Regions from separate parts of the Homo sapiens genome. Here region 2 is linked to region 1. The links come from fine-mapping of genetic effects on gene expression. A gene starts in region 1. The other region holds a variant in brackets. All regions are shown on one strand. Distances are from middle to middle. Region 1 holds the start of MKNK1 (MAPK interacting serine/threonine kinase 1). Region 2 overlaps MKNK1 (MAPK interacting serine/threonine kinase 1).

Region 1 (16,020 bases):
GAGGGCTGTCTGAACTAACTCTTGCAGAATTCATAATTTCCAGGATTGGGGGTCTGAGGACTTCTGTGTGAATGTTGAAAAGAGGAGGGACATGGGGTGGGGCTAGAGAGGGAGGTCAGGATAAGATCATGAAAGGCCTTGAGCAGCGTCCTGCTGGAAAGTTAGGACTTAATCCTGAAGGCCCAGGGATTTTTTAAATGGACCCAGTTGTTGAACTCTCCTTGGAGTTGTATACAAGAGTGTGATGTGAGCATCTCTGCAATTGCACATATTTCTGGGGAGAGTTTAGGTCGTAACTTTTATCATAGTCTAAAAAGGGTTGGTCAGTGACCCCCACAAGTTTGCAAAGCCCTGCTTTAGGTAATGGGAAAATGTGGAAGATGATGTATATTCCAGCAGGGGAGAGCCACAGTCAGATTTGTGCTTCATTAGAAAGAAAAGTATGGCCAGGCACAGTGGCTCATGCCTGTAATCCCAGCATTTAGGAGGACGAGGCAGGTGGATCACCTGAGGTCAGGAGTTCAAGACCAGCCTGACCAACATGGAGAAACCCTGTCTCTACTAAAAATACAAAATTAGCTGGGCATGATGGCACATGTCTGTAATCCCAGCTACTTGGGAGGCTGAGGCAGGAGAATACCTTGAACCTGGGAGGTGGAGGTTGCAGTGAGCCGAGATCATGCCATTGCACTTGCCTGGGCAAGAGTGAAACTCCGTCTCAAAAAGGAAAGAAAAAAAGAAAGGAAGAAAGAAAGAAAAGTATGGGAGAAAGTCAAACCACTCTCTGTTTTCCAAAGGGAAGTGTACTAAAAAGTGTGCTGGGGAAAAAGCCATCCTGGTTGCCTGTGTGTGGGAGGGAAAAGTTGAGCAGAGCTTTGGCACCAGGATACTGATCCCCTTCTGCCCTCCCCTGCCCTCTAGGAGTTCCCTTCCCTAAGAACTTCCAGCAGGTCTGCACCAAGATCCTGACCCGCCTCTTCCGAGTCTTTGTCCATGTCTACATCCACCACTTCGATAGCATCCTCAGCATGGGGGCAGAGGCGCACGTCAACACCTGCTACAAGCACTTCTACTACTTCATCCGCGAGTTCAGTCTGGTGGACCAGCGGGAGCTGGAGCCACTGGTGAGGCCAAGCCCTACCACCCTCCCCTACCAAGGCTAGCCTCTGAGTTTTCACGTCCAAAAGCTGCCTGCTTTAAGTAACTCCAACGCCCAAGTAGATGAATTAGGGGAAGGCAATTCATTTAACAGTGAATTCTGTACTTCAATAGAGAATTCATTCAAGTGTTGGTTTACAAACCCAGATCTGCAGCCTAAGAGTTGGGGTTGCTGGGGGAAGGCCAGGCTCAGACAGAAGAGCAGCTAGGCCCTATGGTTTGGGAAGGGATTGCCTAGTAGGCTGAGCTCTAATTGACCCCTCCCTACCTTGTGTCTCTACAGAGGGAGATGACAGAGCGGATCTGCCACTGAGCCCAGGTCTGGACTTTTTTGGCCATCAGATGGACGATCTGAACATAGGGTGGCTGGCAGAGGGGACCCCCAGGAGCCTGAAGGAATCTGAAGGCACTGGAATCACTCCACACACCCAAAGCCTCTGGACTTCTGGTTCTCAGGAGTCTGCCTACCTGTCGCCCTGACCGCTTGTGGATGGAGAAGGGGAGAGCATCTAGGCAGGCAAACAGAAGGGAAGTGGAGTTAAACCTCTGGCATGAAGTCTGGGAGTAGGGTAGGCTAGGGGGTTTCTTCTATGACACTTGACCCTTCCATGCTGGTTCCCAAGCCTATTGGAGGAATGTGGGTGTGGCCGAGGTGATGGCAAGAAAGGTGCAAGAAAGTGAGCAGTCTGCCTGTGAGTGAGCACAGATGCCGGGGTGTGTGTGTGTGTGTGTGATTTTCACTGTGGGGTGTGTCTGTGAGAGCTAGCTGCCTTACCCCTCCTTGGCACATAGTAGGCCTTCCATAAATGTTGGATGGATGGATAAATAGATTGGGACCATCAGACCATGGGACCATCAGACCATGACCACTGTAGGAGTGATGACAGCTCAGCGTCCCCACTCAGTGTATCTGACCATGTGTGTAAGTGCACAAAAATGTGGTTGTAGATGTTGCTCTACATTCAAACCTTCCAGGCTACACTCTTCCATCAGCATGAGTCCTGGAGAGCTGGGGGAACGTAGGAAGAGGAGCCTTGCCTTGAGTTCCTAAACCGACCCACTGCAGACACAGGCTCTGATTCTCTTACCCAGAGATGCCCATGAGCTGACATTTTACTCATCCCTCTGCCTCCAAGAAGGCCTGTATTATACGTGTCCTCCTGGGGGTTGGAGATGATCCCTCAAGTACACAAAGGTCCCCTGGCCCTTCATCTGGGAATCATATACTCCACTCTAGCTCCCAGAATCTACAGACCTGGCTCCTCGGATCTGAAGCCCAGCACAAAATAATCTCCCCGTCCAAGGAGCTTGTGGAACTTGAATTGGGAACTTTGGAGTCTTGTCTCCCATCCCAGCACATTGAGGATGTAGTTGGTGAATGGACTCTTCCAGGCATGGAGATCCTCCATCCTAAAAGTACCTGCCTCCTTCCCAGCCATCCCTGACACATTCCAGCCAGTTGGATCTCACAGCACAGCTATCCACAGGGAGACTGGGATGTTCACGCAGCACTCCATTACTCAGTACCTCCATACCCAGCCCTATACGCAGACCCACAGGTGGGGAAACTGAGGCAGGAACAGGGTTCTGCCCTCCCAGAGCCTCCACTCTGGGATGCCAGAATGGAAAGCCAGAGGGAACCTGAGAATCATCCAGTCTTACTGTCTCAATGTACATACGGGGAAACTGAAGCCAGGAGAAGAAGAGGGAGAAACTGTCCAGGGCCTCACAGGGAGGCATTCATGGAGCTGGAGAAACCAGGGATCCTGACCGCAGGGCCCATCAATTGCTACATAGAGATACACATGGAAAGAGGGTTTAACAGACCCTCTCTAGGACACAACTGTTTCTGCTTTGAGCAATAATTTCTAACCTGAGGCCAACATGTCCCACTGCCCCTTGGGTTGGCTGGGGTTGTTTCCTGAGCCAAGCATCCAATATCATGCCCCACTCAATGGCCTAGAAGCTGCCTGTACTTTGGGGAAACAGATGGAGCTCTTGGGCCCAGCCAGCTGGGCCTGGGACTTCTGCCTCTGCCGCCTCCAGAGTGGCCTGGCAGCTTTGCCAGAGGCTGTGGAGCGAGGGTAGTAGGAGCTTTTCCCAGAGTGCTGTGACTTGCATGATGGATTCTAGGCTGTGGCAAGGGCTGATTTCTGGGATAGGGGGAGGGTTGGAAAATTTATTTTTATGAAACAGAGGGAAGACTTTATTGTTGTTATTTTTGGTAAAATAAAAGGCAAACTAAAGCAGCCACTGGTGGGAAGCGGTGATCTGGGTGCCACATGGCTCTTGGCAGACCATGGAAGGAACTGAGCCAGAATGGGGCTGGGAAGGCTTTTTGTCCTGAGATACTGGACCATGTGGAGGGCTGGCTGGTGTGGTCATGTCTGGCCCAGCTCTCTAGGGTGGGGACACAAAGATTCTCCTGGGGCTCTGGAAATTCTAGACCGAGCTAGGCTAGGACGCTTGGGGTGGAGAAGCCTGGCTTTTCTTTGCCTTCCGGGAACTCAGTCTGATAGGAATCGTTCCTTGTTTCATCTCAGGTTGCCTGGCATTGGCTATTCTTTTTTTTCTTTTTCTTTTTTTTTTTTTTTTTGAGATGGAGTCTTGCTCTGTCACCCAGGTTGGAGTGCAGTGGCGCGATCTTGGCTCACTGCAAGCTCCGCCTCCTGGGTTCATGCCATTCTCCTGCCTCAGCCTCCGGAGTAGCTGGGACTACAGGCACCCACCACCACGCCCAGCTAATTTTTTTGTATTTTTAGTAGAAACGGGGTTTCACCGCGTTAGCCAGGATGGTCTCGATCTCCTGACCTCGTGATCTACCCGCCTCGGCCTCCCAAAGTGCTGGGATTACAGGCATGAGCCACCACGCCTGGCCTGGCATTGGCTATTCTCACTCCAGCCCCTTACTCTGGGTGGTTTTTTTTTGAGGTAGTAGATAAAAGGACAGAGTGGAAATACAATCCCAACACTAATTACAGGACAGGAGGCCATCCTGAAGAGGAAGATACTTGTTGCTGGCTGGAGCTACGGTGGGGGTGGCAGGACATGGGCCTGACTCCTGAGCTTACTCCCCAGTAGACATCTGCATCTATTGGCTCAGGTCTTGCTGTCATTCCACTGCCCCAACTCACAAGCTGCCTGGGCAGGAATTAAAAAGCAGCTTGGTTCTTAAGAGTCAACAAAGGCCCATCTAGAGCTCTTCCCTCTTCCTGCAAAGGAGCCAGCCTGGCTTTGTGCAGAGGCTCTCCTGGGAGGCAAAGGCATAGGTTGTAGCCCCAGCCCAGCTCCTGAAGTTCCATTGCAAGCCCATTCCCCCTCTAGACCCCAACCCTTCATCTATTTTGTTATCAGTGATGGGAGTGAAGGACTGATTGATCTCAGCTCCTTCATTATATAGTCTATGAATCATTCACAGTCATCATAACAGCTAATGTTCATTATGTGTCAGGTACACTTCTAAGTGCTTGACATATAATAGCTTGTTGAATCAAGTGTGTCTTTGGCCAGCTGCCTTGCTTCCCTTCCAGCCCCCAATATCCCTGCCTTTAGTCACTCCTCTAGAATCTGGAAGGCCCTCCATTCTGCTGCCTCTTCCTCTGGCTCACCACAGGAGGCCCAATCCCAGCATTCTAAAAGGGTGCTATTTGCACACCTCCTATAACAGATCGCTCACTACCTCCTCTGTCATTGGACAGCTCAGACTGTTACAAGTCCCATGCTTTGGGTTCATGGTCATTTTGAAATATGACCATGGCAGTGAGAGTAGATTTATCTTAGAACTGTGTGACCCAAGACCTGCACCTTACATGAGAATATCTGTAAATACATTAGGAAGCTGACACAAAATTGCTTTGAGAGATTCACAGAGGGATGCTTAAAGAAGAATAGACAGAAAGGAAGAGAAGGGGAAAAGAAAGAGATAGGGCCTCAATGATGCAGATAAAAGAGCACACTCCCATGGGGCAAAACCTAGTAACAAAGGGTCCTGGGAGGTAGAGTGGCAGCTTGGTTGAGAAGTCAGGCTGGGCTTTATTTTCCTGTTGGCTCAAGGTCCATAACAAAGCTGGGCATAGTGGCTCTTCCCTGTAATCCCAGCACTTTGGGAGGCCAAGGTGGGAGGATCATTGAGCTCAGGAGTTCGAGACCAGCCTGGGCAACATGGCAAAACCCTGCCTCTAAAAAAATTCAAAAATTAGCCAGTCATGGTAGTGCATGCCTGTAATCCCAGCTACTCAGGAGGCTGAAGCAGGAGGATCACTTGAGCCCAAGCAGAGGTTGCAGTGAGCAAAGCTGGTGCCACTGCACTCCAGCCTGGGGAACACAGTGAGACCTTGTCTCAGAAAAAAAAAAAGAAAAAAAATTCCAAAACAATATTTGGAGCAGGGACCTAGGTAGTAAGCCATCCTCTCCAGCCTGGGGCAGAGCATCCACCTATTGAGTAAAGGATGCCGCATCACCCTCGGCTCCCATAAACACTGCAGCCTCTGAGGTTTCCTGTTGCCTCTCCTCCCTACCCCACAGCAAGCTGTGGAATATGTGGTGAAATAAGCCACAGTCATGACTAGAGCTCCACCTGCTTTGGGGGAGCCCTCCTTCCTCTGAGCACCCCCAGAGCCCTCAAAGATGTTAACTGAATTTGATTGCCATGTGAGGGACATAGCAACTTTGAGAACCTGGAACATAGGTCCTGAATCTCTTGGGCTATTGCCACAGGCAACAGGGAAGGGAACAGGCCAGCAGGGCCTCTGAAGACTTGAAGCTTGGATCGGCCTCCACGGAAGGTAATGAGTGGGAGAAGTCAGGATACATCGGGGCCCTCAGGTTGGACCGCAGGATTCCAGAAGGGAATGAACACAGAAGCTTGATCTTCCGCCTCTCCGGCCTTCACCCAGATTGGGAAATCTAGCAAAGTCCTGAATGTTCACTAATATTCCCAATCTCCTTCCATCATACAGATGAAAAGACAGCCCCGACAAGACAGGGAACAAATGTTTGTCAGGTGGATGATGGGAAGCAAGTCCCTGGGGCTCTTTAACTAGCTTGGCTTACCAAATCCTCACGATAATCCTGAGACAGGCAGGGAAGGGATGTTCACCTCCATCACTCGGAGTCAGCGCCTGAATTAAATCCCAGTCCACACTCTCATCCTTTCTCATCGCAGCTGCAGACTTGGGAAGGGGATGTGGGGAGACTGGTTGAGGCATTAACCTATTTACAGTTGTTTTTCCCCAAGAAATGAACTTTTAAAAGTTTTAAAAATTTTGAAATACTGGGGATAATGTTGTACTCAAGGAGAAACTCTTATGGTGAAATTCTAGGCACTCAGACTTTTAAAGAAATTGTACAGAATTGGCCCCCGTTTTAGAAAAGACTAGCAGCATTTCCCCACATATAAAAGGCATTTTAAAATTCCTTCCTGGCCTGCAGAAGCTCTCAGTACATGTTAATTACACCTGTCGCGCCCGGCCTCCTACCTTCCCGGGCTTCTCCACCCTCCATTCGGAAAAGAAAGCGCCGGAGGAGCTAAGCCCCACCCGCTTGCCAGCAATCTCCCCTCTCCCCGCCTCTTCCCTGTCACGCCTGCGCAGTTCGCTCAGCTCGAGCCCCCTGCCCTCAGGCGGCCCTGGGTAGCCATCAGGGCGCAGGCGCAGCTCCGCCCCCTCACCCTCCTCTCTGATCGGGCCCACCCCCTGGATCTAGCACCGCCTCTTCCGCGTTCTCGGAGGAGCGATCTGCAGGTAGGGGTGCGCGCGACCGCTCCCCGGCGGGAGCCAGCGAAGGTAAAAGCGAGACCTGCGAGGTATTCCTCCGAGCTAAATGGGGCCGGGGTCTGTGAGTGAGCTCGTGTGCCCGGAAGGGGGCAGTCAGGGCCTTCACGGCTGCCCGAGGTCACGACGCGATTCAGCTGCGGAGGGACAGCCTAAGGGGACGCTTTTCAGGACTGTCCCGAGCTGTCTGCGACCTCTGTGCCTGGGGTCGGGGCGTGGCCGGTGTCCGAGATGGCGCTTACTCTGTGGCCCGTTTGAGACTCAGTCTCTCCCAGGGATCAGGACCGAGGCTATGGCTGGGCGCAGGGCTCAGGCAGTCCAGTATCATGAATAGTTTTTCACGTGAGGAATTTGTGAAATCTGTGTACTGCGTTATTTTTAAGTTAATTGTTTTCATTTATTTTCAGTATTTAAAGGCTCCTGCCTGTGTGGATGGCTGTCCACAGGGAAAGGTAATAAGAGTGTCAGGTGCACCCTGTCTTCTAGAGAGCTCCAAGCTCCCTGACAGTGGCAGATCAGAGGCAGGCAGGCTCACAGGAATGAAGTGTTGTTAGAAGTGCTCAACTTCAGGGTCAGGGAGTCCTGGGTTTAGATCTCATCTCTTCCACCTCTTAGCTGTGTGTCCTGGGGCAAGTCTGCTTCCCCTCCCAGAGCTTCACTTTCTTCCCTAGGAAATGGCCATAATAGGGTCATTGTGAAGGGTGAATAGGATTATATGGAAGTCACCTAGTATGGCGCCTGTCATGTAATGGGTGCTGAATACATGGTAGCTGTGATTTCTAGGAGCTTGGTCATTTTGGATTGGGGTACTTTAGAAAGGCTCTGAGAGAAGAGTTGTTGTGACCTGGGCCTTGAAGCCTCAGTGGGATTTACAGATGGAACTGACCCTGCAGAATGGGAAGGGCACCACTGCCCATGCGCCAGGCACATGCTGGACAGTAGGTGTAATGTCTCACTGGATCACCACCCATCAGCCAGGTGCTTTCAGCCCACTCTCCTTAGCTTCAGCCCTTCATTAGAGGGCTGGGCTGGAAGTGATGTGAAGAGGAAATCCAGGGTTGGGTTTTATATGGAACTGAGCCAGCTAGAGGCTTTGGTGCCCCCTCTGCCCATCTGCTCCCACCTCAACACTTCTCTCTCTGTAATCCAGAGAGTTGGTTAGGAGTCCTGTTACTCTGGTATTTTGCAGATGTTGACAGTTGTGGGGGATGGCAACTCAGATTGCATGAAGCGAAGCCATGGGAGAGGGAAGCTCTGTGAACAGGAGCTGTCAGAGCCCAGCACGTGCTTAGAAAGTGCATGTGGTCTCCTGTAATGTGGTCCCAGAGTAATTGAATTACTTAGTTCCTTTTGCATCCTCTTCATGGGTGCCCTTGTGCTCTTCCTGAGACACTACTCGGAAACCTTGGTGGGCATCATTGCCTACTATATAGAGCAGTGGTGTCCAATCTTTTGGCTTCCCTGGGCCACATTGGAAGAAGAAGAACCATCTTGGGCCACACATAAAATACACTAACATTAACAATAGCTGATGAGCTTTAAAAAAATTGCAAAAAAATCTCAGTGTTTTAAGAACGTTTATGAATTTGTGTTGGACCACATTCAGAGCCATCCAGGGCCGCGGGTTGGACAAGCTGGATGTAGAGTTTGGACTCCAGCCTCAGACAAGTTCCTGCACAATTTGTTCCCACACCTCTCCCCTCCCTGTTTCCCTTGGTTTTCCCAAACCTGCAACCTGTGCTTCAGTCAAAATAAACTAGTTGTCTCTGTTTCTCCTTTTTTTTTGAGATGGAGTCTCACTTTGTCACCCAGGCTGGAGTGCAGTGGCACAATCTCGGCTCACTGCAACCTCCACTTCCCAGGTTCAAGTGATTCTCCTGCCTCAGCCTCCTGAGTAGCTGGAATTACAGGCATGAGCCACCACACCCGGCTAATTTTTGTATTTTTAGTAGAGACGGGGTTTCGCCATGTTGGCCAGGCTGGATTCAAACTTCTGACCTCAGGTGATCCGCCTGCCTGGGCCTCCCAAAGTGCTGGTACTACAGATGTGAGCCAACGTGCCCGGCCAAATCTCTGTTTCTCAAACACTCCCTGCATGTTCCTGCTCGAGCCTTTGCTTATATTCTCTCTTCCTGGATTTCCCTCCTCCTCCTCATCTTTCAAGGCTTACATCTCTTACATCTCATGTGGCCTCCATGGTGAAGCTTTTCTGAGCCTTCTGCTGGATTAGTTGTTCCCCTTTCCATCTTCTGTAGCAAAGGCTGACCCTCTAATATAGCTCTCATCATAGTCTGCCTAGGGATATGTACACTCCATATGTACTCTGAGTACGTGGGTGGCAAGGGACCATGTCTCTTTCCTTCCTCCTCTGTCCAGCATAGGGCCAGCACATAGTAGGCCTCTTCAGTGTTTGTGGTTAAGTGAGTCAGTGACATTTTTTATTTACTAGGTTTGGCCCTTGTTTTATGAGCTGTCAGGTTCAGAATGGGACTTTGTGTTTTTCCTCCTCTTTGTGCCTAAGGAGGGCCCCAGTTTAGACTGATGCCCTAATTACAGGCATCAAAAACAAGAAAGTACAAGAATTCTGCACAAGCAGGCATTCTTCATTGCAGCCATTGTTTTCAGGCTCTTGTCTTGCCTTGACCGTGAGTTTTGTTGGAAGGTAGGTAATGCTGTGTTCAGAGACCTGCACTGGGTGTATTAATAGTACAGTTCAAACAGGGGAAAGCTCACAGGTGGTTTTCTAATCAGTTTACTCTGCCCTTGGCCTTGGGAAACAGTGGTTCCTCCCATCTGGGGACCAGCAGCTATAAATGCACATTTTCCCTTGCCAACAGCCTCAGCATGTGGAAGAGAAAGTTATTTCTTGATCAGAGAAAAATTTACATGGTTGAAGGTAGAAGGAGCTTGGAAACCAACCATCTGGTTCCGCCACTTTCATTTTATAGATGGGGAAAGGACTTGATTGAGATTACACAAGGAGGCCGGTGTGTGGCTCACGCCTGTAATCCCAGCACTTTGGGAGGCCGAGGCAGGTGGATCACCTGAGGTCAGAAGTTCGAGACCAGCCTGACCAACATGGTGAAACCCCATCTCTACTAAAAATACAAAAATTAGCTGTGCATGGTGGTGGGTGCCTGTAATCCCAACTATTTGGGAGGCTGAGGCAGGAGAATCGCTTGAACCCAGAAGGCAGAGGTTGCAGTGAGCTGAAATTGTGCCATTGCACTCCAGCCTGGGCGACAGAGTGAGACTCTGTCTCAAAAAAAAAAAAAGATTACACAAGGAATCAGTCAGTAGTGGAGATAGTTCTAGAAGTGAAATGTCATGACTCTGTTTTTTCAGTCTACTACGTTGTTAATACAACATCGAACATTTATTGCACACTTGCTGTGTTCCAGACACTGTTTTTAAAAGTGTTTTTAACTCTGTGTTATAGCTTGGAAACTAAGGCAGATCATTCAGATCTATTTTCCAATTCCACAACTCTGGGTTTTAGTGTGGTTTTAATGGCAGTCACCTCCTACCCAGTGGGGTGGAACAGTTCTCCAAAGAGCTTGCTCCCAGATCTCCGTGAGTGAGAAGTGTTGTCCCAGCAATGTCTCCTTATATGCTGGAGAGAGATCCCAAGAAGAGTCCAGAGTGTATTGGAAGAATGGATGAAGGAATGAAACAAGCCCACATGAGTATTAGCGGATCTTAGTTTAGGAATATTCATGTACTTCAAAAATTGCCTATTTATCAAGTTAGGCAGTAAATGCAGTTTTAGAATGAACTCAGTCTGGGATCTTTCTGTAAAGATTCCCAGTATAGGATGGAAAGATTCAATTCGGTAAGCACATATTGAGCTCTTGCTATGTACAAGACCCTGGTATTGAGAAATATACACAGAGGAAAACAACACATTTCCTGCCCTCCTATAAATAATTGTCTTCTCAGAACCTTCTCCCTCCAGTGTAGTTGGGAAGATAGATAAGTACATAAATAACTGAAATCAGACTGACTATGGTAAATGTAGTAAGGAATGTAAACAAAGTGGGAGTTTGGAAGAAGGAGAAATCAATCCCAGCATGACCAGAGGATTCCTGAAGGTGGAGAATTTATGCTGGGCCTTGGAGGGAGTTTATTCCTGGGAGAAGGAACAGCTTGAGCAACAGTTGAGAGGCAGAAATGCTCAGGTGTAGGGGTGTGTGTGTGTGTGTTGTGGGAGGGGAGAGGAGTTGGTGAGGAGAAGAAGTAAGCCGAATTGGCAGATTTTGGCTAAAATGTAGAGAGTGGAGTAGGGAGCAGAACACTAGCATTTATAAAGTGTCTCCTTTGCTTTGTGGCTTGCAGTATGCTGGTTGCTTTACATACTATATTTAATCCTGTAATATAGGCCTATTTATCTCCAATCTAAAGATGAGGAAACCAGACCTCAGAAAGATTAAAGTGACTTCCCCAAGGTTAGATAGATAGTAAGGGCACAGCTTGGTTCAAAACTAGCAGTGCTGAGTTCAAAGGCCCATGTTATCTTCCTTATGCTAGAGGCTCCAAATGCCCTGACTGGCGCTCGGTTTTCTCTGGCAGCAGGACGGAGGTTAGACTGGAGCAAAGATGGTCCCAGAATGGGGACATCAGTGAAGAGGCTTAAACGGTGAATCACTGGCCTAGTTTGGAAGCTGCATGGACTAGGTCTGCTTGATAGGTTTAATAGGTGATCATTTTGGCAGCACCCACAGTGCCATAAATCAGTGCATTGCCATCCTTAGCTAGTAGAATCTTAGAACCAGTTTACAGAAGCTGCAGGACCCTGGTATTTCAGGCATGGGTTCTGATGGGAGATTGACGTTACAAAAGGGTCTGTCGGGGGAGGCAGCCTGTTTGGCACATCCTGTCTCTTCATTTTCTCACCCTCAAATTCAACAAGAGTCTGTAAGTAGGACAGAGCACTAACTTGGAGTGCAGAGGCTGGCATTCAAGTCCTGCACCTGCTCATTATCATCTGAGAGTCCTCAGTCTGTTTCTTTCCTTTGTATTTGCTGTCAGATTATTCCCTCCTGCAGCCAGTTATGGTTCACAGAGTCGTTGGGTTGCTTTCCAGAGCCACAGCTGATCTGGGGAAGCCATATCAGAAGCGGGAATAACAGTTACTAGTTATTGGGTGCCTACTGTATGCCAGGCACTGATGCCATGAGCTCCATATACATTAGCTCACTTAATTCTCATGACAACTCTGTGATGTGGGTGTAATTGCCCCCATTTTATAGATGCTGATAATCAGAGGAGTATTTTGGTTCACTTCTGAGGCCTCAACTCTTGCTAATGTCCTGGCTTGGGACTGTATGAGGAAGAACTGAGAATATAAACAGGATTCAGAGAGACTAGAGTTTATATTCCAGCCTCTCATCCTTACAGAGAGACAGTAGTTAGGTATGTGGACTCTAGAGTCAGGCTATCTGGGTTTGAGTCCTGGCTCTGTCACTTGCTACCTGTGTGACTTGGGCAAGTTATTTAATCTTCCTGAGTTTCTGTTCCTTCATCTGTAAAATGAGAATACAAATATTACTTACCTCATGGGGTTGTTATGAGAATTGAGATACAACAGCACAGTGCCTGGCACACAGTAGGTGCTCAATGAATGTGAGCTTTAATAGTAATAATATTAATAAATATATGAATGCCCAGTTTGGTACTGTTTTTATAGAAAGTATATTTATTAGGGCCATTTTCCCTTCCCCCGCATTGTTACCTTCTCTTTCTTTCCATTGCCCTGTCAGGAACCTTTGAGATACTAGATTGTTCCAGCACATGGTTGCAATGCATAACATGGCAGAAAGTGCCTGTAGGAAATGGGTCAATAAAAATCAGTGGCTCGTTAGAAAATCTTACCTGACTTGTGTTTTCACCTCTCTCCACAGTAAACAGGAACAGAGCAGCACATATATTACTTTTTTCACAGCCTTCAACAAGAGTGCCAAGCAAGACTCCTCCAATTCACTTGCCAAAAGTACAATAACAGTATCTCTGGAAAAGTGGTGCCTAATTTGGTTCTTCTTTCTGTCCAGCTTAAACCCTTCAGGCCTTAACTTAAGCCATTTCTTCTTGTTCCATTTTCCATGAATATGGAAAAGTTTCTTCTGATTTTAAAGGGAGGATGAGATCAAGATTTTCTCATGAGAACCTTTTCTGTACTTAAAGCCAGAATCCAGTTAAACCTCATCTTCTCTTCTCCCGGCTAAACAGCCTTGGTCTCTTTAACCTCACTCTTAAAACCTGTTTTCCATTGCTTGGATCACATTGGTCATGCCTCTTTTCTTTCTCTTCGGTTTTTCTGCTTTGTGGCAGTGACCCAGACTGTACTCGGTCTTCTAATAAGAGTCCAGCTAAAACAGCTTAAGGGAAGAATAACTTCAGCTGTTTCCATCCATTCATTAACAATTATGAAGTGGTTGCCCCATACCAGAGCCTCTGCTAGGTGTAGGGGTCCCAGAGATGAAGGAGACATAGTCTCTACCCTGTCCCTGGCTAACAGTCTAGGGGAAGATGCGTAATAAAATGTTACAGGTAATTTAATTATGCACAAGTGTAGGAAGCTGGGAATTGGTTAGAGCAATCAGGTGGAAATACAGTCCCTTTTGACGAGACTGCAGGTTAAGACTCCCATAGAGGGTTGGTCTGGGACAAGTTGATGGAGGCCGTGAGTGACAGCACAGAAGCTTGGTTACTCCAGAGGCAGTGGACACCCATTAGAAGTTTTAGAGCAAGGAAGTAACAGGTCGAGATCTGGCTTTTTGGACCAAGGGTAGAGATGCCATAAACCTTAGCCTTACCTGTGCCTCACTGATGTTTTCTGTCTTGAAAGTAATGTGATGGATCTTTTGTTTGTATACATGGTGATTTTTTTTTTTTTTTTTGCTCTAAAACGTCTGTAGAAGGTCTAGTTCTTAAGCACTGAAGAAATTTAATTCCCAGTACAGCAAGAAATTCATGAACAATTGAGAGAGAATTGGGTGCCTCGCCAGGCCCAGCCTACTTAAGACCCAGCTGCAGGCCGATGGATCTGTGTAGGTTTGGTCTGGCCATGGTCACCCTTCCCCACCCCAGCCCTATACCAGCAGGAGGTACAGGAATGAGGAGAGGGCTCCAGGGTCCATCTGGGTAGTTGGTAAAGAATGCTAAGAATCTTTAAGAACTGTGAGAGTCAGAAGTAATTTTTGAGGAGGAAAAAGGGACCAGAGGAATTTTAAATGGTGCCAGAAGGAATTAGGGCTAACCAGGCACTTAGAATCCTGTGACATGTATCTGAAAACCTCCACATTCTCTCTCTGCCTTTGTATTTGCTGTCAGTTTATTCCCTCCTGCGGCCAACTGTGGTTCACAGATTGGCTGGGTTGCTTTCCAGAGCTGCAGTTGATCTGGAGAAGCCATGTCAGAAGCTGGAATAAGAGTTACTATTGAGTGCCTACTGTATGCCAGATACTGGTGCCACGAGCTCTATATACATTAGCTCACTTAATTGCCATGACAACTCTGTGATCTAGGTGTTATTGCCCCATTTTATAGATGATGGTAGTAAAGCTCAGAGAGTTTGAATTTTATGTCCAAGGCTACCCGGCTGGTAGATGGTAGGGCCAGAACTGGAACCTAGGACCTAATGCCCAAAAGCCCTGTGCTTTCTACTTCCCCAGCCTAAGGTGGCTCCACGTGGCAAAATAACACAAAGCCCATAAGGAATTCTGAGGGGTTTTTTTTCTACTGTAGGCCAAGGGTTGGCAAAGTATGGCCCACAGGCCATATTTGACTCACTGCCTGTTTTAGTGTGGATGCAAACTAATGTACTTTTTACATTTTTATGTGGTTGGGGAGAAATCAAGAAAAGATCAATATTTTATGACACATGAAAATCTATGAAATTTAAATTTCAGTGTCCAAAAATAAAGTTTTATTGACATATAGCTACAATCATTGATTTACATATTGTCTACTGCTTTCTCTCTACAAATGCAAAATTGAGTCATAACAAAGATCATGTGACACACAAAGCTTAAAATATTTACCATCTGGCACTTTACAGAAAAAAAATTGCCAACTCCTACCATAGGTAACAAGAAGGGACCAGGTGGGGGTCTAAACCTATGACAAGACTAAAGACAGAATGGAAGCTCAAGGCCAGGCGTGGTGGCTCACGCCCATAATCCCAGCACTTTGGGAGGCTGAGACAGGCAAATCACGTGAGCTCAGGAGCTCAATACCAGCCTGGGCAACATGGTGAGACCCTGTGTCTACAAAAAATACAAAAATTAGGCGTGGTGGCTCGTGCCTGTAGTTTCAGCTACTTGGGAGGCTGAGGTGGGAGGATCACTTGAGCCTGGCAGGTGGAGGCTGCAGTGAGCCAAGATCATGCCACTGCACTCCAGCCTGGCTAATGGAGCCAGATCCTGTCGTTGGATGGTGTTCAAGGCTGTCCCTGGAAGTGTGGTAGTAGAAGTGAAGAAAGAGAGCATACCCTGAGTTTCCTTAGGCCCTGGAAACAGTTTTACTGGGTTTCAGATTTGTTTGGGAATAAAGAGCATAGTAGGAAGGACTGTCCAATGTGCTAACATCTTTATTGGATGTTAAAGAGATATTTCGTGTATTAAGTAATTCATTCAGATTCACTAGAGCCCATTTTTGCCAGATACTATGTTAGATGCTGGTAATGCAAAGATGAAAAAGGTAAGTGCTTGCCTTTGAGGAATAACTGGCAGGATGACGTGATCTGATAGGGAAGAAGAGAAGTCAGAGGAAGGAGGCAGTGGGTGGGGGTTGGGCACAAGTCCCACTTGGGGCATGTGGTTTGAGGTCATGGTGAAACACACCCAACTTCCAGTTAGAAAGCCTTTTTAGAAATTTTGGCTCAGAATTCAGAGTTAAACTGCATTTTCAGGGCTTTTCCACCGAGAAAAGGGGAAATGCATATTTATTTCATAGGGAAGTTGACAAAGCAACTTTGACTTGTATAGCTAGAGCCATGGTATTAAAATAACAGTGAACATAGAGAAAATGAAGTCATCAGATTGAAAACTAGCAATAATTATGTATTCGACACAAAACCTTGTTCCCATTCATG
Region 2 (16,020 bases), 23 kb after region 1:
AGCATTGAGTTTGAATCCCAGTTAAACCACTAACTAGATGTTTGGCATTGGGTAGGTTATTTAATCTACTGGCTGCCTGCTCTGAGCTTCTTTCCTTACCTGAAATATGGCAAAAATATTTACCTTTTGAGATTATGATAAGAATTAGAGATAATATGTACAGAATATCCATGTAGTTGGCACTTTTTAAAATTGTAGCGTATTAGCAGTTTTACGTATTTCTGTCTAGTCTTTCTACTCTGTTGGGTTCATATATGGGCATACATACCTGTGCATATGCATATGTTTTTGGAAACATATTTATGTGAAGTATATCATTGGGTATTTTTTGTTTTTTTTTTGAGACGGAGTTTCACTCTTGTTGCGCAGGCTGGAGTGCAATGGTGCGATCTCAGTTCACCGCAACCTCCGCCTCCGGGGTTCAAGCAATTCTCCTGCCTCAGCCTCCCGAGTAGCTGGGATTACAGGCATGCACCACCATGCCTGGCTAATTTTGTACTTTTAGTAGAGACGAGGTTTCTCCATGTTGGTCAGGCTGGTCTCAAACTCCCAACCTCAGGTGATCTGCCTGCCTCGGCCTCCCAAAGTGCTGGGATTACAGGTGTGAGCCACCACACCTGGCCATCATTGGGTCTTTACAACAACCTGTGAGGTAGACAGGGCGGGTGTGTTTTTAAACCTATTTGATAGATGAGGAAACTGAGACTCTAAGAGGCACAGTAACTTGGCCTTGGTTCTGTTATAATATCTGAACCAGGGCTTCTGCCTTGCTCGCCTGATGCCAAGCCTGTGTGCCTTCCCTGTCAGCAAGCAGCATGCTGCTTCTTCAGTTCCACTTCCACCTCCACTAATAGACACATGTGGTGGACCGCCGAGCCGTTCCCAAGAGGAAGGCAAGGGCTGGAGGCAGCGGAAGTGCTGGGAGCCTCCAGACCAGCTGGGATCTGCCTGAAACTGAAAAGAAGTGCTCACTTCTTCCTCTGTAATAACAGACACATTGCCCAATCCTATAGCAAGAACCAGGCTTCTGTTTAGAAAGTGAAGGACCTGGCTGGGCGCAGTGGTTCACGTCTGTAATCCCAGCACTTTGGGAGGCCAAGGCAGGCGGATCACCTGAGGTCAGGAGTTTGAGACCAGCCTGGCCAACATGGCGAAACCCCGTCTCTACTAAAAAGTACAAAAAATTAGCCGGACATGGTGGCATGTGCCTGTAGTCCCAGCTACTCTGGAGGCTGAGGCAGGAGAATCGCTTGAACCCGGGAGGCAGAGGTTGTACTGAGCTGCACTCCACTGCATTCCAGCTTGGGTGACAGAGCAAGACTCCATCTCAAAAAGAAAAGAAAAGATAAGAAAGTGAAGGACGTTTTGTGTCCTAGACCCTTTTTCGAAAGGGAGTTTATCCAGGAATTAGTAGAATTCCTGAACTGGATTCATAAAACTAAGTAGCCTTACTCTGCATTGTCTACAGGGCAAAGTTGTACCCATGTTTCTTTCAGGATGTGCACTGGGTACCTAAAAGGCCAGTGTGACATACCCCACACCTAACAGTATGCATGTCATTTCATATCATTTCTATTTCAGTGCAATTTCTGATGGCTGCTATGTGTCTGACACTGTGCCATGATCTGTAGGAGAAACAAGTGAACAGGGGACAATCTCAGCCTTTAGGAACACAGGGGAGCACTCAAGGCCAAATAAAATCAGTGCCCTCGTGGAGCTTCTCGCAGGGTGTTTGGGAGCAGAGGATGGAGCACCAACTACTAGTTCTGCTCAGTAACACCCTCCATTTGCATAGCACCTAACTGACTTCCAGAGTCTCTGTAGAAACCTTAACTCATCTGGAGTTATCAGGGAGCTGCAAAAGGGTTGGGACTATCGAGCCGGCTTTTGATGACCAAGAAGAATTCCTAGGCCAAGGGAAGCAGGTGAGCCAAGGTGCAGCTTTACTGCGGGGGTCCCACTCCCTGAGGCAGCATTTATCCCATGAGTGTTTGCATGATGAATTAAGGCCCCACAGACCTGCTAGTGGACTCTGTGATGAAAATAGTGTGTGGCCAGGCTCCACATGGGCAACTAGCGACCCCTTGGTGAGATTATGACACCTCTCGCTTCCCCCTGTGTAACCAGGGAAGCTAAGCATGTTTCTTTCACTTCACCCATCTTCCTACATTTTTTCCTTCCTAGTTTCAGAAACAACTCTCCAAGTTCCATTTCCAAGGAAAGTCTTAACCATTTGTCCCTTCTGGCGTACCCTCTTTCATTGAAATCCATGCAGAATATACCAGGTACTCTGTCTTTGTGTGTGTGTGAAGCCATAAAATCTAATGTTACGTGTGCGGTGGTGCTGTGAGGTATGCTTCTCGTGCAAGCGGCTCCCTCAGCCCTGCTGTGGTAAAGACCAAGTATAAATTGTCGCTAACAGGGTTTTCTCATTAGAGTCGTGTGCCTGAGTGTCCCCTGTGAATTATAATGCCTCCAGCCCTCTTGCTGCTCCTCTGCTCTGCCTGTCTTTTGGCTGTTTTGCTTGTCCTGGGGCCCTCCATCAAAGTGTGGACAGGGGAAGGAGAAAGAGCTGAAACCCAAATCTGTTTCCTCTGCACTGGGCCTGCGGTGCCGATGAGAAAATAGATGCAGACACGGGTTGCCACTGGACTGCATTCAAGGTCAGCGCAAGAGAGAGAGACAATGGTTCCTCCTTCTCAGCCTGCTGCCCCGATGGCCAGCACCCCCTCCCTGAGCTCCTGAAGATGAGTGACCCTGTGTTTTATTTCTGCTGAATTTCTCACCATGTTATACATTTGGGCAGCTTTTTTCCTTTTAATTTACCTTGGTGAGGGTGGGTGTTGAGGTGCTGATTTTTTTTTTTTTTTTTTTTTTTTTTTTTTTTTTTTTTTTTTTTTTTTTTTTTTGAGACGGAATCTTGCTCTGTCACCCAGGCTGGAGTGCAATGGCGTGATCTCGGCTCACTGCAACCTCTGCCTCCCAGGTTCAAGCGATTCTCCTGCCTCAGCCTCCCGAGTAGCTGGCACTACAGGCACCCGCCACCACACCCAGCTAATTTTTGTATTTTTAGTAGAGACAGGTTTCACCATGTTGGCCACGATGGTCTCGAACTTCTGACCTCAAGTGATCTGCCTACCTCGGCATCCCAAAGCGCTGGGATTACAGGCGTGAGCCATGGTGCCTAGCCAGATGTTTAATTCTTTCAATTCATAGGGTGTTGCAGTCCCCAGATATATCTTGTGTTTGAAGCTCTTGGCTAGAGTTATATTTTGAGATGCTCTGTGGATTTCTTTTATCTGTGTGTTTATCTGTTCCCCATTCTAAACTATAATTTAAAATGTGCTGTCATCAGATCCCCAAAATGGATGGAAGAATGCGCCTAAATTGAGCTGTCAGGCACTTGGCTGCGTAACCATGCTTTCTGGATTGTGGTGTTGAAAGTGCCATCCTGTGTGCTCTCTCCGGATGGCTGTCACGTACTTGCGTCTGAGAACAGTGTATGGACCTGCATGAGCACTAATCAGTCTTCCTAGCAGACTTGCTCTTTCTCTGGTCGTATGCCGCCAGATCCTCTGAGAAGAGAGTGGGCCTTTCCCCTCAATGGGCAAAGAACCAGCTTCCATTTTAAAAGCTCTCAGAAAAAAAAGAAAGAAAAAAAAAAAAAAACACCAACAACCAAGAGCCTGTGTTTATTGAAGGTTGGTCTAAAAGTCTCTCACATCGTATGCCCCATCAGCACTCGAGTGCCTCTATTTTAGAAGGATGTAAAGGTTTAATCACGCTGGTGGGGATTTAGACCCAGAGACTTCGGAGAAATCTTATTATTTCTAACTGCAGGCAAAGAGTATTAAAGCTCCACTCTGGATCAGGGGCATGACATGTTCTATAAGTAATTTATCTTTAACAGGGAAAGGCCCATACTAGAGTGTCTTAGAAACAGGACTGTGATTGGGCACTGGTTCACTGTTCCTCCTTTTCTCTTTCCTATCTCAGTGTCCTGCTTATTCTTTCCATCCGGACTTTTTCTGCCCAATCTGTGCAGTGTCTGAATGCCTGCCTCACAAATCCTCCTTTTAAGATTGGGAGCCAGGTGCTTGCCAATGAAAGATAATAAGGTTTTTTGCAATAAGTGACCTCATCCAGCAGCCTGGCACAGACCTGTCAACTGCCGACTTCTGAATGGGCACTACCTGCAGCCCTTCCGATGGAGGAGCTATGGGAGGAGAGGATGCCGTAGGCTCCATAGGCACTCAAGTCCGTGCTCTTGGACATGAAGTAATTTGGGGCTATTTTGAACCCCAGCCCTATTGCTACCTTCACAGAGGCTGTCTCCACTCCAGGCCATTTGTGCCCTGTGTGCATCCATAGCGATGTTGCTGAGCCTATGACTCATCTGCATGGTCCCCCACTCCCAACCCCCTTCTTGCCTAGCTCTCTCGGTTTTGCCTTTCTGATGCTGAGGCTGGAGGATGTCACAGGTGGGGTTCTGCCTATGGAGTCATTGTTCTGTTTGGGGAATATGGTTTGACCAGTGGCAGATCTAAATCCACGCGCTAATGAGCTTGGTTAAAGCAGGCTTCCGCTGGCCTCTTTTAATCTAGCCTGCCTGTCTGAGCTCCTTTCCACAGTTAATGATCTCCCATAATGGCTTTGCCTTTAGTTTTTCCTCCTAGGTCAAAACAAATCAATAGTCTTCACAGATATTTAAAAACCATCAGTGTAAACCTCCTGGGTCCTCCCCCACTACCTTTTTTTTTTCCTTCTGGGTAAATTTACAGCTTGATCAGTACAGTGATGTTTCCCTTACATCTCCTCTTATCTCCTAGAGATGGGCAGTAGCGAACCCCTTCCCATCGCAGATGGTGACAGGAGGAGGAAGAAGAAGCGGAGGGGCCGGGCCACTGACTCCTTGCCAGGAAAGTTTGAAGGTTGGTCACACAACTTCCCTATATCTGGGCCTGCAGCTTCCCAAGCATGGGAGGAGCATCCCGGGAGCCACAGGTCCGATCACAGAATGCGTCAAGTTAGAGCCAGATGGTGGTTATCTGTGTGGTAGGGAGATAAGATGGGGATGAGGGAGTTTACACAGGGCATTACAGAAAGAGAGCAGGGATGGAAAAAGCTCTCAGATGATGCACTGGCCTCCTGTGAATGGCTCAGGTACTGCTTCCTTTTCAGGGAGCAGGAAGACCCATCTATCAGTGGCATTGCCTGGGGTCTTCCTTTTTTCAGATGTGATTCTTCCCTCAGCTATTCCTGGAGGGGCTGCTGAGAGATAGAACTATATAAGAGGAAGAGAGAAACACCAAAGGCCATGGCCGCAAATGAAACTTCAGTCTCCTGTAAGCAGAGAATTTGTCTCTCAGATTGTAGCTACTTATGCTGTGTGTGTTTGACTACATTTTAAAGAATACGTGTTGTGTTCAGTAGAAACGATGTTGGGTCATCAGACATTTTTTGACACTCTCTGTGTGCGAGGCACTAGGCTCAGTGTGGGTCCTGTTATCACTGGGCATGTGATGGGGTGATTGGACACTTGTGCAAAGCACCAAGAGGATCAGTAGCTACTCCTAGGAGTAACGTGCCCCACTTCATCTGTTTTGTTTTCTTTCGTTGTGAGGTCTGAAGTAGCTTCGCCTCTTGGTCCCTCCTTCCAGCCTTCCAGACACACTAGTGAATTGGCTGTTCTGTAAAGTGGTTCCAATAACAAGCACTTTATCGGTTGGGAATATGGGACCTCCAGCCACCCACCTATCCTGATATGTGTAAAGGGCTAATGCCAATGTGTCCATTGTGAGAAGCATGTCATTTAAAACACTTACGAATAACAGTGTGCCATCTGCTCTTATAAACAACTGAAAGACCAAACCGTGATGGAACCAAGAAGGTACTTTCAGCAGGGGTTTTTTGTTTGCCTTTAACTCAAACAGCAGGGGTGTGTGTCTGTGTGTGTGTGTCTGTGTGTGTCAGGGTATGGGGATGGGGGAGAGACAAAGATCCCAAGGTATTCAAATAGTTTCCTAATCAACAGCTCTTTTGCTCTTTCAGTTAACACAAGAGAGTACTTCCTATTTTTAAGGACAGCTTGTGCAATGACAGGACTTCTCCTGACTGAGAGTGATAAAATCTAATTCATGGTTGAAATGTCTTCTGCTCAGGCTGTGGGTTTCAATGCTAGGTGCCTCAAGAGGAAAAGGCTGAAGAATGGAGGCCGAGTGGGGATGAGGTCAGGCAGCTAGTGCTGTGATGGAGATGTAGCCTCCTTTGGAAGGGGCTCAAAGAGCTGTGCTCTTTGTGAGCTTGGGCAGGTCATCTAGATGTTCCTTTAACCCAGGTCTATTACTCTGTTAGAACAACTATGACTCAGTACCCTAAAAACCTCAAGGTGTCCTTTGCATCCTACTTCTATTTCCTGTGGGTGACTTCTGGAGACTTCTCAGAAGCCTCCAATGACTTCCATGTATGGGGTATAAAATAGAACAGTGTTTTATTCTCCTTTGTATAGCCAGTGCTTACACAGAACTTGGCACATAATAGGTGCTCAGTAAATGAGTAAATGAATATTCATTCAAATCATACCACTTCTCCTCTGATGATCCTCCAGATTCTCTGACCAATTTTTTTTTTTTTTTTTTTTTTTTTTTTTTGATATGGGGTCTCACTCTGTCACCAGGCTGGAGTGCAGTGGCACGATCTTGGCTCACTACAACCTCCGCCTCTCGGGTTCAAGCGATTCTCCTGCCTCAGCCCCCGAAATAGCTGGGACTTTAGGCGCGTGCCACCACACCCAGCTAATTTTTGTATTTTTAGTAGAGACGGGGTTTCCCACATTGGCCAGGATGGTCTCGATTTCTTCACCTCTTGATCTGCCCACCTCGGCCTCCCAAAGTGCCGGGACTACAGGTGTGAGCCACCATGCCCAGCCTCTCTGAACAGATTTAACCCTTTCTTCCCCCAACTTTTTTTTTTAACTGTACTTTGTCCCTCTGTGATAGTATTTACCAATGCCTGGTTTATTCTGGGGTCACCTGTGTATGTGTCTGTCTTCCCCACTGGACTGCGACCCTTAGAGGAGAGGGATCATGCGTATATATATTTTAGAGATGGGGTCTTGCTATGTTGGCCAGATTGGTTCTGAACTCCTGGCCTCAAGCAATCCTCCTGGCTTGGCCTCCCAAAGTGCTAGGATTACAGGTGTAAGCCCCTGCACCTGGCCTTTATTTTATTCCTTACTCTGTTATGCTGTCTGGCACATAGTAGATATTCAGGAAGTATGTGCCGAATTGAGACCCTTTTGCTAACCTCATCGCTAAAATGAGGAACAGGATGCCTTGTATGTGGTCTTGTTGTTGAGAAACTGG[GT/T]CCTCAGGTGGCTGGGAAAGCTACTTGTCTTCCTTGTCACTGAGTGCTAGAGTCATTGGGTGCCTGTGTCGTCTGATCAGGGAAGCTGAGCCACAAAAGTTCTTCCCATCTGAGCTTGCAGTAGGGTGACTCATCTTGTTATTCCTCTCATCCATTTCACCTCTAGATATGTACAAGCTGACCTCTGAATTGCTTGGAGAGGGAGCCTATGCCAAAGTTCAAGGTGCCGTGAGCCTACAGAATGGCAAAGAGTATGCCGTCAAAGTGAGTGTCTCAGCTGAATGCCAGGCTTTACTTTGCAAATAGTCATTCCTAGCTCATCTTGAACCAAATAAATGTTATATTCCATAAGAATGGGGACTCTGAAGCTGTATTCACTGGATTCAAATCTTGGTTTCTCTACTTACTGTGTACCTCGGGCAAGTTACTTAACTTCTCTGTCCTTCAGTTTTCTCATCTGTAAAATGGGTATAATACTAGAACCTATGTAGAATTGTTGTGAGGATTAAATAAGTTAATATAGGTAAAGTGCTTAGCACAATGCCTGGCTCATAGTAAGTTTCTCATTATTCTGACAAATGAAGTCAGCTTCAGGGAGTGGACAACCAGATTTGGAATTAGAAGGCCTACCTGAATATCTATTTTGACAAACTATAACTGTTTGACTTTGGGCAAGTCATCAAATGTCCGTAAGCCTCAGTTCCTACATCTCTAAATGATGATACCTGCCCTTCAGTCTCCTGAGGCAGTTATGAAGATGAAAATTAAAATATCCTGGGAGAGGTGGAAACACTTTACACGTCACAAAATGCTATCCAAGTGTTAGATGTTAGCATGATAGTGAGGATTAAAAACTAAGGTGACTGATTTGGTAACATCTGAATGATGTCTCAGAAAAAAAAAATTAAAAGAAGAAAACAAAACTAAAGCGACTGAGCACTCAGTTTTGGGGCAGGAGAAGTGGCTTCTGGCCTCATTGCTGCCTTTAATTAGCTGTAAGGCCTTGGAGTGGCTCATGTCACCCCTCTGTGCCTCCACTTGCCCTCTCCACATGGAAGAAGAGCTGGATCTTGAGCAGTGGTTCTCAAAATGTGTGCCCTGGACCAGCCTCAGCATCGCTTGGGAACTTGTTAGAAATAGAAGCTACCTGGCCCTACCTGAGAAGTACCAACTCAGAAACAGGGGTGGGCCCAGCAATACAAATGTTAACAAACTCTCCTGGTGACTCTGACACTCACTAATCCTTGAGGACTACTGTTGTAGGAAGGGCAGTTGTGAATGCTACTATGTGTTAGAAGCCCTTAGAGCTCTAACAAAGCACACACAGATCCAGGTTTCCAGATGTAGGATAGGGTCTGGATCTCTGTGGCTTGACCAGATTCCCCACTTGAGTCTCATAGCCACCAAAGTTTGAGGACTAACTGACCTAGAGAAAGGGTCTTTTTAAATCCAAGCTGATTTCAAATCACCCACCTGAGCCACCAGGTCAAATGCCACCTCACATTGGCAATCCCAGCCCAGTGGGCTCCTGAAGGAAATGTTTTCTCTTCTTTGAACCAACTTTCCACAGTCCCAGCTGCGGGTTAGAAGGTTGAGCAAGTCTGCTAAGCCACGTTCCTTTCAGCTGGAGTATTGCTTCACATGGTAACAAGAGCACTGTCTTAATTTCTTTTGGGAAACAGCTCAGTATAAATTACAAGTGATTTTTAAAACATACGCCTAAGTGTAAATAGAAAAATTAGGCCAGGCATGTGGCTCACACCTGTAATCCCAGCACTTTGGGAGGCTGAGGCGGGCTGATCACCTGAGGTCAGGAATTCAAGACCAGCCTGGCCAACATGGTGAAACCCATCTCTACTAAAAATACAAAAATATTAGCCGGGTGTGGTGCATTCCTGTAATCCCAGCTACCTGGGAGGCTGAGGCAGGAGAATCCCATGAACCCGGGAGGTAGAGGTTGCACAGTGAGCCGAGATCACACCACTGCACTCCAGCCTGGGCGACAGAGCAAGACTCTGTCACAAAAAGAAAAAAAAAATGTTAGCCTGGTGTGGTGGCATGTGCGTCTAATTCCAGCTACCTGGGAGGCTGAAGTGGGAGGATCACTTGAGCCCAGGAGGCAAAGGTTGCAATGAGCCAGGATGGTGCCACTGCACTCCACCCTGGACAACAGAGGGAGACTCTGTCTCAAAAAAAAAAAAAAAAAATTGATATATCTGTCTAAATGCGGTAAAAACCACAAACATAAACTGATTTTCAAAGGTTTCAATACATTTATGGATGAGAGGTATATTTCTTCAAGGTTGGATAATGGGAGGAAAACCTGGCCCTTCCTCCACATCCCCCCTGGCATCTTTGAGGCAAACACTGGACTCTGGCTTGGCAATTCCTTGGTTTCAGCAGTTCTGCCCATGTTTCTTCTCTCCCCTACTCTTTCAAAGCTCCCTAGAGATGGGCTACTTCTCCCAACATGGCCCCACAATACTTAGCTTATTACAGCTTTTCCTATAGGCACCCAGCTGATCCTAGACTCTCAAGGTTGGGATGGAATTTCAAGATAACCCTGAATTTCCTCTGACTCCCCAGATAGTTGTCCATGTTCTGCTCCCCCATCTCTAGTAGCAAGAGCCCATTACTTCCTCAGAGAAGACTGTGCTGTGGAAGGCTTGCCTGCTAGAAAGTTCTTCATGACTTTGATCTGAAATGCTTGGGGAATGAAGTTGAATCACTTCTGTTCCCCAGCACTACACCTCTCCATTCAGATAATGGGCCCACTGTGGTTTACAAACAGACACACTTATTTAGAAAATTGCAGTTGGTCACAGATGTCTGTGCCACATCATATCGGAGAAGTTTGAAGTCTCAATGAAGGAAGAGGATGTCATTGTGCTGCCCACTGTGCACGTTGGAGCTGTAAGGCAGAGCTAGGCTCTGCAGATTTGCTCACAGGCTCGGTGTGCAGTGGTTTGAGGCTCCAGATGGGTCCAGAGAGCTTTGCAGAGGCAGCCAGTCCCTTTGGAAACCACCCTCCCATCTGTTGGCTTATCTGTTCCTTCAGTCAGCATTTGACAAGCATCTCAGGTAAAAGTGTGGAGGGGGAGCAGCCCACCGTATCACAGGAGAGACAAAGCCTCCAGGTCCTCGAAGAAGTTAGAGCATCTAAGCAGGTATGGGATAGCAAGGGCTTAGGAGTCAGCTCTGGACTGCAGGCAAATGTTTCATACCTCCCTATCTTTTGATGTTGTCATAAAGGTCAACTGAGATTATGTAAATAAATTATTATTGTTTATTTATTTATTTATTTATTTATTTTTTGAGATGGAGTCTCTCTGTTACTTAGGCTGGAGTGCAATGGCACAATCTCGGCTCACTGCAACCTCCGCCTCCCCAGTTCAAGTGACTATCCTGCCTCAGCCTCCTGAGTAGCTGGGATTACAAGCACCCACTACCACGCCTGGCTAATTTTTTTGTATTTTCAGTAGAGACGGGGTTTCACCGTGTTGGCCAGGCTGGTCTAGAACTCCTGACCTCAGGTGATCCACCCACCTCAGCCTCCAGAAGTGCTGGGATTACAGGTGTGAGTCACCACACCCGGCCGTAAATAAATCATTTAACACAGTATCTGCCAGAGAGTAAGTTCTCAGAAGAGGAAGAGCCTACTTCTGCCAGGGGGATCGTGGAGGCAGCCTCTGAGCTGGGTGTCAAAGCTTTAGCTCCTCGCCACGGTGTCCTGCATCAGCCTCTCCCTCCAGCATGAGAAGATCCTTCAGTAGATGCAGTAAATGCTTACCCTTAAGGCAGAAAGAGGTGTCCACAGGAGGTGGAGCTGAGTAAGGTAGCTCTTTGTCTTGCCGGCTGCCTCAGTCTCCCCTGGGCAGCTGGGGGCAGCAGCCTCATTCACTTCCTTGGTGTTGTGCTTGGCCAGAGTGGAATGGGCTCAGCTGAGCTGGAAAGCCCTGAGGCCAGTCTGCTGCTTTGCCAACAGAGCCACAGTGCCGGTGTCACCAAGGCCTAGGCCAGACTTCTGCTGGACACTGGATTTGGACTGAGTGTGGCCTTGCATTCTCCCAGAGGACTCCTGCCAAAGGGCTGTTTGGAAGTCAGGTGGGTGTACATGACAGATTTTATTCTTCCCACAGATCATCGAGAAACAAGCAGGGCACAGTCGGAGTAGGGTGTTTCGAGAGGTGGAGACGCTGTATCAGTGTCAGGGAAACAAGTGAGTATCATGTGATTCTCGCTGCTTCTCTGGGGGGACGCTTGGCCACAGAAGAGGAGGCTATTTCTTACCATCTCCTGACTCCAGCATTTAGCTCTCACTCCTGTCCCCACAAGGCAGGTACCTCCTTCCGCCCCTTTCAGTGTTAGGGAGAGAAAGGAAAAGCAGCAGTAACAGCAAAGGAGCTATTATCTCTTCTGAAATACTGTAAATATCATCAATTCAAGCAAGTTAGAAGAATGAACTATCTGAATCAGTGGTTGTTGGGGGGAAATGGGGTTTTATTTCTTTCGGTACCTGTGGAAACTAGGTTGACTGAGTGTTGCCTGGTAGAAATCTTTAAGGACTTGCCTTAATACCAAGATGAGGAGAACTGTTAAGAATATTTGCTGCTGTTTCTGCTCCTAGAATGTTTACATATGTGCAGATACCACTAAGATCCTGGAACCTTCCAGATAGCTGGGTCCGGCTCATCTCTAGCCCCAGTTCATTCTGCCCACCACCAGCTCCAAATGAGCAGCTCTCCCACTGTGGCTTTAAATCAGGGGCACCTCTAAGACTCCACTTCCCCCTCTCTCCCTCCACGGTAGGGTCAGCAGGGAGCCAGTGGCCTGGTATTGATGGCTTTGTCATTAAGCTTGGAGGATTGGAGGACGGGGGCTGCTGTTGATTTAACTCCAGGCACTGCCTCCACAATCTTCTTTCAAATTAGGCCATTTTGCCCATCTTATTTGGATGCCTTCACACTAGTAAAAGCCTCATATCTCCCAAAGTAGTCAGCATTTTTTTTATGAGGGACAGATTTTTATTTTCAGCCCTGCAGCTTCTTAGTTCAGCATTAGAGACTCTACTTGGTTTATTTTATTTTGTAAAAGAAAAAAAGCCCACAACACCTCCAATATCCAGGCTGGTGGCTTCCCTACTGAGTTACAAGACGACCTTGTTGGCAGAGCACTGAAATACTCGGGCAGACAGAGAGTGCTCACCGGGGAAGGCCACAAGTGCTACAGTGGCCAGGAACGCGGCCGTTTCATTAAGCAGCGCTTAGCAGTTAGGGTCTAGCGGTGCCCATGTTAGGCCCCAAGTCCATTTGACAGATGTTTCCATTTTCTCCAGGCAATGTAAATACTGCCCCGTGATTTATGGGCAAGAGGGAGGGCAAGTAATTATTTGCTGCTTGCCTCCAGGACACACACCTAGTATTCAGTGTTATTAGCCGCAATTGCTTCCAGTCGGCTGCAGATTTTATTCAGTTTAATGTGACCGGGACTTTTTTATAACTCTACCTAGTGGGTTTTAGGGCTGGGGTTTGACAGCACAGACTTGGTGAAAACACCAGAGACTAAACATTATGGAAAGATAAGGTGACCTGAATCTTGCTAACACCATTGGCTGCTTCCATACGCGGGTCTTTAATAAGCATTCTGATTTCAAGTTGGTTTCTGCCCCACTACCAGGTGTTGTATATTTTTTTCATTGTATATTTGTAAGTAGACTTTAATATATAATACCATTTCCCCCCTTTTCCCTCTCCTCCTATTTTCCCTATTTAAGGAACATTTTGGAGCTGATTGAGTTCTTTGAAGATGACACAAGGTTTTACTTGGTCTTTGAGAAATTGCAAGGAGGTACTTACCGTTGAGTATGTGTGTGGACTTCTGATTAAGACCCAGGGTGGTGATCATCCATCATGAATCCCAGAGACTTCCAAAACGAGTCAAGCTAATAAAAAGGATGAAGGACTTAAAAACTGCCCTTGATTTGGGAGAAGGGAGGCCGGAGGGAAGGATGATAATTAGCATTTTGCAGAGCTTAGAATGTCACCTGTGTGGGTATTTTATAAATGCCTTTTCATTATAATAGGAGTCATATATAGATACATTTAGTCATCGATTTATCAATCCCGTTTTGACATGTTCACTGTTTAACTACATTAATTATGGGGTGGAAGCTCTCAAATACATTGCGAAGTCTAGAAAGGCTAAAACAGAGGAGAGGAGGGTCCTATTGTTTGGGACACAGACCCAGGATAAAGGGGAAGCCTGAGAATGTGCCATCCTTCAGATGGAAAGATGCCATCACCCACACACATAATCACTGGGGTGTATACTTAAGTTGCTTTTCTGACATAATGAGGTGGGGTAGAGAAACCCTTTCCCTTCCCATCACTCCCCCAATCTTAGGACACACTTGCAGGGATGTCTGGAACTGCATGGAGGGCCACACGGAGGGGCTTGGTGGTTGAGGGAGCGTGCTTTAGAAACCAACACAGCTAAAGCTTATGTTATGTCTAGCTGCATCACTTACTAGCCATGTGATCTTGGGCAAGTCACTTAACCTTTTCTAAACAATATTCCCTTCTATAAAATAGAGATATTGATAGCACCTACCTCACTGGGTTGCTGTGAAGATTAAATGAGATAATTCATGTGAAATGCTTAGGACAGTGTCTGGTAGGCACTAAGGGCCCAATAAATGTTGGCTGCTAATATTATTAAAACAATTTGGTATGCTGGGGGATGTCTTAGAAGTATGTAGAGTAGACCAGGTACAGTGGCTCACGCCTATAATCCCAGCACTTTGGGATGCCAAGGTGGGCAGATCACTTGAGGTCAGGAGTTCAAGACCAGCCTGGCCAACATGGTGAAACCCGGCTCTACTAAAAATACAAAAATTAGCTGGGTGTGCTGGCACATGCCTGTAATCCCAGCTACTCAGGAGGCTGAGGCAGAAGAATCGCTTGAACCTGGGAGGCAGAGGTTGCAGTGAGCCGAGATCGCACCACTACACTCCAGCCTGGGCAACAGAGTGAGACTCTGTCTCAAAAAAAAAAAAAAAAAAGTATGTAAAGCATTATTCTCTGCTTTTCCTTTTAACAGATTTGGAAACGAGGCTCACTACAGCAGAGCAAGCTAGGACCTAGTCATGAGCCGGTTTTCTGGGAATGTTCCCTAGCACATTGGGATCCGTTGTTTAATCTGGCAAGCGAACAATCTTTGGCAGTTCTTCCCCTTCTCTCATGCCCTCCCCATCCCCCCTAAAAAACAGTAGACATGTGCCATTTTTAGGACAGAGAGATAATACCTTCAGCCCAGAAATGCTGGCTTCTAGTAGTAAACATAAACCACATGAAGCCAAGCCACATGTTCCTGCCTGTGTCTGCCCCTGCACCACCCAATAACACATGACTGACTGTTAATTACATGTTTGAAATGCTACATGCAGATGGGATCCTCTGTCGCCATATCAGTAAACTTAATGTAGCTTATTGAGGCCAGACCCAGTGTGGTTGGCTCAAGAGAGTCCATCCCTGCAGCAGTCAGACCACAAGTCCTGCTGGGGGATGTCTGCACAGACTCGGAGGCCTGACTGACGCCCTGGGCCTAAGTCCTGGCCTCACCCCTTACTGGTGCGTAATCTTGGGCAAGTTGCTCAACCATTTTTCTTTTTGGCTTCAGGATCTCCCTCTGTAAAACGAGAATAAGTGTACTACCCATTTTGTCCAATTGTGGTGAGAATAAGACAGTTTATTTCAAGAGTATTCCATAGCACATGGCACTAGTAACTACTCAGTAAATGTTAGCCATTGCCAACAAAACAATAATGAATGGGAAAGCTCAGGCGGAAAACCCATTTTTCCCCCCTTTTCCCAGGCCTTTACATGTCTGGCAAGGGTGTGGCATTTCCATTTGAAAGTTTGTGCTCTTGTTTGGATCAGAGATCAGATGCAGGGGAGAAAACGTTGCTGCAGAAAGGCCCCCTCAGCTCCAAGTGCCTTCAGTTTTATTCCTTTTGATTGCAGAAGCCAAATCAGCCTCAGCATCATTAGTGTTTTTTGGCCCTATTTATAGTTGTTCTCTCTCGCTTCTGAGCTCCTCATAGACAGGTACAGAAGAGAGTAGTCCAGTTTTGTTTAACAGACATACAAGCTGGTACCTCCTCCGTACCAGGCCCCACACTTGGAGCTGGACAGGTAGTGATGAGTCAGCGATGAATCCCTATGTCCCCACCCCAAGTTTTCCAAACTTGGGAAAACTTGGCCTCTAAGAAGTTATACGGCCAGGCGCAGTGGCTCACGCCTGTAATCCCAACAGTTTGGGAGGCTGAGGCAGGCGGATCACTTGGTCGGGAGTTCGAGACCAGCCTGACCAACATGGTGAAACCCCATCTCTACTAAAAAAAAAAAGTACAAAAATTAGCTGGACATGGTGGTGCCTGCCTGTAATCCCAGCTACTCAGGAGGCTGAGACAGGAGAATCGCTTGAACCCGGAGGCGGAGGTTGCAGTGAGCCGAGATCGTGCCACTACTCTCCAGCCTGGGTAACAGAGTGAGACTTCGTCTAAAAAAAAAACTTATACTTACTAGAGCCCAAAAAGGCATTCTTCTATGTCCCCTCTGCTCCCCAGGTTCCATCTTAGCCCACATCCAGAAGCAA

Evidence for each region. PIP is the estimated chance that this variant, and not a neighbour inherited with it, causes the effect.
Region 2: its variant is fine-mapped to the expression of MKNK1 in whole blood (TOPMed, PIP above 0.99).

The regions. Positions count from the first base shown.
Region 1 is chr1:46,595,106-46,611,125 of GRCh38, reverse strand. It overlaps MKNK1 (MAPK interacting serine/threonine kinase 1), which reads left to right and starts at 6,858. Exons shown (of 13, transcript NM_001135553.4): 1 at 6,858-6,941. It overlaps MOB3C (MOB kinase activator 3C), which reads left to right. Exons shown (of 4, transcript NM_201403.3): 3 at 922-1,124; 4 at 1,442-3,407. The coding sequence ends at 1,471. RefSeq lists a silencer at 6,677-6,896 and enhancers at 7,227-7,276, 7,044-7,544.
Region 2 is chr1:46,572,139-46,588,158 of GRCh38, reverse strand. It overlaps MKNK1 (MAPK interacting serine/threonine kinase 1), which reads left to right. Exons shown (of 13, transcript NM_001135553.4): 3 at 4,830-4,931; 4 at 7,532-7,629; 5 at 11,505-11,584; 6 at 13,139-13,212; 7 at 15,992-16,020. The coding sequence starts at 4,832. Among named protein-coding and RNA genes, the nearest start is that of MKNK1, 24 kb to the left of the region's middle. The variant GT/T (reference allele first, on the strand shown) is at 7,365.